Linked DNA regions of Homo sapiens: region 2 is reported to be linked to region 1. The links are microRNA targets in miRTarBase. Many come from high-throughput screens and were not tested one by one. Region 1 holds a microRNA gene; the other region holds the end of a gene's coding sequence.
Evidence for each region. The annotated mature microRNA hsa-miR-4715-5p reads AAGUUGGCUGCAGUUAAGGUGG and lies in region 1 at 1,968-1,989, opposite strand. An mRNA with a match to its seed (bases 2 to 7 or 8) in the 3' UTR can be bound and repressed. Matches are read on the target gene's strand: a 7mer-m8 pairs with bases 2 to 8, a 7mer-A1 pairs with bases 2 to 7 and ends in A, and an 8mer does both.

Region 2: the mRNA of DNAL1 is a reported target of hsa-miR-4715-5p. Seed matches in the 3' UTR shown: 7mer-A1 at 974-980.

Annotation. Positions count from the first base shown.
Region 1 is chr15:25,846,828-25,850,364 of GRCh38, forward strand. MIR4715 (microRNA 4715) reads right to left here and starts at 1,998; the gene lies at 1,920-1,998. The region is part of intron 1 of ATP10A (ATPase phospholipid transporting 10A (putative)); the gene reads right to left. RefSeq lists an enhancer at 3,457-3,506.
Region 2 is chr14:73,695,606-73,698,605 of GRCh38, reverse strand. It overlaps DNAL1 (dynein axonemal light chain 1), which reads right to left. Exons shown (of 8, transcript NM_031427.4): 8 at 1-2,704. The coding sequence ends at 2,664. Among named protein-coding and RNA genes, the nearest start is that of PNMA1, 17 kb to the left of the region's middle. RefSeq lists an enhancer at 507-676.

The DNA.
Region 1 (3,537 bases):
TGGTTTATTTTATTTTCATTTATATTTTGTATGTTTCAATAGATATAAGATATTTATGCATTACATGCCGGTAATTTATAAATAAATACACACACCCCCACTTTGGGTGCACATGCCCACTTTTTACTGATAGAGGTGTGAGATCAAAAACATCTGAAGACTGTGGCTGTAATGAACCAGCTACACTAAAAAGGATCAATAACATATACATTTTTCTAAAAAGCATCCATAGAGCATCTTTGTCAGCTATCCTTGTTAAATTCTGGGTATTGGCTTTTATCAGGATAACTATCTGGTGTTAGACACTTTCTCAAAAGCCAGAAATATTTAAACAACTTGATCTCATCCACACACATCAAAGATCAAAGGGACACAGGAGGCTCTGACTGAGCAGCACGCGCAGGCACTCAGCCAGTGGCCCTGAGTAACATCTCTTGGGACCCCAGAGCCCCAGGGCCACCTGTTCTGCTCCCAGGCTCTGCCCCTTTTGGACTGAAACCTCCCTCTCTGGGCTCCCATTTCCTCACAGGAACAATGAAGAATTTATAAGCTCTTCACAGAGCTAGCTAAGAATGGTACCATACAAATTCATAAAAATTCAGGCAAGTATATGGTGCTAGAGAAATACGTGAAGTTTTATCACTAAGTATTTGAACAACAATTTTAAAAAGCACCTTTTTTCCACCGTATCATGATCTTTGCGGGTCACGGGGTCTTCATGATCCCACTAAGCAATTTGGAGCTATTCCATATATTCCTAGCTAATTCAAACAGCTACAGCCTTTTTTTTTTTTTTTTTTTTTTTTTTTTTTTTTTTTTTTTTGAGATAGAGTCTCACTCTGTCACCTGGGCTGGAGTGCAGTAGTGCAATCATAATCACGTCTCACAGCACTCTTAACCTTCTGTGCTCAAACAATCTCAGCCCCGCAAGCAGCTGGGACTACAGGCATGCACCACCATGCCCAGCTAATTTTTCGTATTTTTTGTAGGGATGAGGTTTTGCCATGTTTTCCAGGCTGGTATCCAACTCCTGAGCTCAAGCAATCCACCCACCTTGGCCTCCCAAAGTGCTGGGATTACAGATGTGAGCCACCACACCTGGCCTACAGCCATTTTTTAACGGAAATCATCTTAATCAATATTAACACACAAAAAGCTGTAGTTAAGAAGGTGGTTTCTGCCAGGCATGGCAGATAGAGCCTGTATTTCCAGCTACTTGGGAGGCTGAGGCAGGACTGTGTGAGGCCCAGAAGTTCAAGACCAGCCTGGCAACACAGCAAGACCTGGCCTCTAAAAAGTGTTTTTTTTTTTTAATCATCTGTAAAATGAGGATGCAAAACAAACAAAAAAATAAACATGGTATCTGTTTGTTAAACTCTGCAATGAACACATGTATTAGCTTCCCGCTGCGGCAACAAATTATGACAACTTGGTGGCTTGAAGTAACACAAATTTGGGGAGTTTTATTTTATTTATTTCATTTTATAGAGATGGGGTCTTGCCCAGGCTGGAGTGCAGTAGCATAATCACAGCCCAGTGCAACCCCAGTCTCCTGGTCTCAAGTGATCCTCCTGCCTCAGCCTCCTGAGGACCTGGGACTACAGGCTTGTGCCACTGCACCGGCTAAACAAATCTGTCATTTCACAATTCTGGAGGTCAATCTGACATGGATCTTACTGGGTCAAAACGATGGTTTCGGCAGGGCGGCGGGAGAGAATGTTTCCTTGCCTTTTCCAGCTCCTAGAGGCCGCCCACACTCCTTGACTCTAGGTCCTCCACTTTCAAAGCCAACAATGGCAAATTAAGTAGTATTCATATCGGATCTCTCTGCCCGCTTTTCTTCCACTTTTACAGACTTGTGATTACACTGGGCCCACAATTCACTCCAGAATAATCTCCCCATCTTTTTCCAAGAGAAAGGGGAATTAGAATTGGCTGCAGTTAAGGTGGCACCATCAGCTGATTAGCCACCTTAACTGCAGCCAACTTTCATTCCCCTTTCTCATGGGACCTAAGGGAGGGCAGTAGCTCCAGGGATGTTTTACAATTTAAGTTCTATTATTATTCAAGCACTATGGGGCTGACAGGTCAGGAGAGGACTGCCATTGAAAAGAGGATTTGTTACTCAGAGTCCTCCAGAGAAGGAGCTCGCCACACCTACCGCTGTGGGAGGGGGAACATAGGGGAGACCAGCGTCCTAGGAGGCAGAGACCTTGGTGAGAGGAGGGAGAGTCTTTTCTGTGCCTTCCATGGGAAAGAACAGGAGAGGCGGGGTAAGCAGGTTTAGAATCCATTAGTTTGAATAACCTCGGTGGACCCTGGGACAAAGGGCTGTCCCTAGCTGCTTGGTGGCTGGACCTGGGGTGATGAGAGCAGGTGCACAGTGGATGAAACACAGAGGGGGCCGAGGGTGTGGACGTTGGATTGGGTGGCTTGCACACGTAAGGCATGCTGCAGCAATGCTGTTTGCTATCTCTAGGAATTATCTAGCCCTGGGAGGGCCTGTCCCTCCGGAGGCAGCAAGGCTCCAGATGTCAAAGCACCAGACAAGAGAAAATAAAAAGACATCCTTAGTACAGGACTGAATAAGCAGGAACTGAGTTTAGATGTCACTGCATGCAGTAGTTGGGAACAGAGCCAAGAATTACAGACACCACCCTCCCTCCTTCTACGCCTTCTCCAAGTCCCAAGGGCGCATTATGAAGGAATTCCCATTAAGTCTGGCCAGACGCTTTACAGAGGAATTAACACAGGATAGGAAACTGAAAGGAGAAAAAGAGAAAAGACCAGAAACGGAGGAATTTAACCGTGATCAAGGAGGAGCACGGCGCAGCTGCAGGACTGAGCTCAACTCTGGCTCTCACCTCCATGCCAGAGAGAACCTGAGGGTCTCTGTCAGCATGGCCTCCTGGCCCCCAGACATGCTCCCCATGGATGTGAAAGACCACAGGCAGCAGCCAGATTTCTATGGAATGAATCAAACTTTCCATCCTGCTTAAAAGCAATGATTTTCTTTCCAAAAAAAAAAATAAATGTGTACATGGAAAATATTACAATGCAAGTCACAATGAGAGTTAAAAAAGACACACACATCTGATTTGACTAAAGTCTGTCCTGGCAACACGAATAAATAAAATAATGACAATGACACGATGGCACTATGAAATGCCATTACCTAGGTTTCTACCAATTAATTATGAGGGACAAGACATACATAACTAAATATAATTAAATCACGCAGGTCGATAAGATTACCCTTTTTGAGAAAATAATTACATGCCACGTATATTTTGAAACTGTTCAGTGGAGGTGAACAATTGTAGCCCATTATGTGTATGAGACATTCTGGAAAATATCGCTTTGACTTATGTTCAAAAATGGTTGGCTTGTTCAGAGAGAGAGAGTCAGTGGGGAGCACCCAGCAGGAACAGGGGCCTCCCCAGCTCGCTCTCTCCCTGCCTCGTCTTTCCTCTCACAATGCTCTCGGTTTTCTGAGTCAACCATGCTCCTGGGCCAAGGTGCAGCACTGGAGATGAC
Region 2 (3,000 bases), not on the chromosome of region 1:
CAGGCATGATGGCACGTGCCTGTGGTCCCAGCTACTCGGGAGTGAGACTCTGTTTAAAACAAACAAACAAACAAACAAAAAAAAACAGAATAGAAAAAATTTAAATGATCCACTAAAATGGCGTAATGTCTTAAACCGGAAGCACAGAGATAATCTATTCCACATAGGTCAAATATCTGATCCAAGAGGCATAAACCAAAGGCAGTTTTATCAGCTAAATTTGCAGCAGTAAAGGATAATTTAGGGAATGATTTGAGAGAATATCCTACATTTCTTCATACATCCCAACTGCCATTTTCTAATGGCATGGGTTCCATGAACAGGGATGCATAGAAGTCATTCAAAGATTTGTTGAATGATACTGAATATGAATTTTGCATGAAATGGACAGAGAAAAGTATCTTACATTTGTCTGAGAACTACCTGTAATTAAAAGTCATTGAGAAACAAGGAGAAAGAGAACCAGTTTCTATATTACAGAATTCAGAAAAAACAAACACCAAAACTCTAAGCCATTTTACAAATAAATTCAATATGAAATCACTTACTTCCTATTATATTCACTTCCAGGGTTACTTTTAGAAAACATATCCATATCAACATGGCTTCAAGCTTGCCTACTGAAGGAAGTGCAAACTTTAAGAAGATCATCTTCCCTCTCAGTTTATGGAACTTAAAACATCACCAAGGAGAATGAAGGCTCATTGCCTATGGTTCATAAAAGAAATGTCCAAAGGCTTTGAATGCATAAACCAGCTAGAGTAGAATAAGGTTTCTTCCTATCAGATTGAAAAGAAGAGAGAAAAGAAAACTAAAAGGGTGTTAGACCAAGTTTTCCTCTTTTTTTTTTTTTTTTTTTTTTAAATATGGAGTCTCGCTCTATTGCCCAGGCTGGAGTGCAATGGCGCAATCTCGGCTCACTGCAACCTCCGCCTCCCGGGTTCAAATGATTCTCCTGCCTCAGCCTCCCGAGTAGTTGGGACTACAGGCGCCCACCACCAGGACTGGCTAATTTTTGTATTTTTAGTAGAGACGGGGTTTCACCATGTTGGTCAGGCTGGTCTTGAACTCCTGATCTCAGATGATCCGCCCGCCTCGGCCTCCCAAAGTGCTGGGATGACAGGCATGAGCCACCACGCCTGGCCTCTTGTTTGTATTTAGAGTTGATTGTCAAAGCAGTGGTCCCTTTTGATCAGAGTAACTTAGAAAAATCAAGTAATTCCTATGTAAATGATAGCTGAAATCTTCTGAAACCCAGGACTACTTATGCAATCACTTTTTAAAGATGATTCTTCCCTCTTTCACTGTGATTTTATGCAAGTAAAATCACACAAGTAGATGGGGAAACCAGAATCAACAGTCTCTGAGGGACTTTAGGCACAATTTGGCAGAGGGCCCCTGACTTCTTTTCTGCAATCTAATAGTGATCCAGCCATGGCCTCCTATGACCTCATCTGCTTACTGACTACAATGTCTTACATTTTCCTGAAGGATTTTTTGTTTACATGATAAATTCTAACCTCTGCATCTAACTATTGCTTTGCAATTTTGAGGTTAAATCACCTACACTGCTTTATGTAGGAGACAATCCTCAAACATATTGCCATTTGCCTGGGATCTCATAATGAAACATCTCCCTTCCCTCCACAACCACGTACATAATACATTTTAAGAGCTGTTTAACTTAGAACTTCTCAAAAAATATATTTTGAAATACTAAGTTTCATTATACCCTTACTTATAACCATGGTAGTCACTTTTCCCAACAATGAGGGTCACCAGACCAAATAATTAGGGTAAATTTTGACATACATCAATGGCCAGCATTTAGTCTAGGAATTCAAATATAACTAATGCTTTAAACACATAAGGAACTATAAAACCAAAATGTGTGCTTAAGGCGAGGTCCACATGAGTAACATTGCCACATTATCAGTCAAAGAAATGATCATGACAGTCATTTTAACCACTAACTGAGATCACAGAATGACTGTACACAATGACTCAAGTGGCCATGCATATAAAAACAACCTAAATTCCAGTTGACAATGTGCACATTTTTGGAAAAACAAATAAGTATAATATAGACTAGAAGGTCTCTGAGATACTACTTTTTCCTTTTTTCACCATATCTTTTCCAATGGAACTTTGGAGTCTTGGTTCCGGACCTGCTGTATTTCTAAGAGGAACTCTTCCCATCACCATGCTGCCTTCTGAGCTAAAGGCATGTGCTTCTGAATTGTACAGAGACAGACCTTCAGGAAAAATGTTCTGAATTTTCAAATGTACATCTTTTAAAATGTCTAACCTAAAAAAAATGAACAAACTGAAAAAAACATTTGTTCCTTTGTTATTAAAAATGACTGGTCTACAAAGGTTTTGTTTTAGTAGATGGGGCTACACAGTACGTAACTGAGACTGAAGACAAAAATCGAAAATTTGTGGTTTCTAAAAAGAGAAATAGGATATATAAGGTTGGCATTACCAGTTTTGGGGAGAAACACTGAATAAGTTAAAGGAAAAAAAAAGATGAGAATGAGTGATCTGTTTTATCTTAAGAAACTTTTGTCCCATACAGAATCTTTAAAATAGACAATTATATAAAATTTATCTATTGTTCTTATGACATTTAAATAAGTTAACACACAGTGGAAAGCGTGGCATTAGTTGTCTTCTTCCTCATCCCCTTTAATTACTGGAGTACCTAAAATGAAAAAGAAAATTATTACTGGTTATTCTCAAAAAATTGCTAAAATTCTAGATGAAAATATTTTCCTGGCCGGGCACGGTGGCTCACGCCTGTAATCCCAGCACTTTGGGAGGCTGAGGCGGGTGGATCACCTGAGGTCAGGAGTTCAAGACCATCCTGGCCAACATGGTGAAACCCCGTCTCTATAAAAATACAAAAATTAGCTGGGCATGGTGGCGGGCGGTTGTAATCCCAGTTACTTGGGAGGCTGAGGCAGGAGAATCGCTTGAACCCGGGAGGCAGAGGTTGCA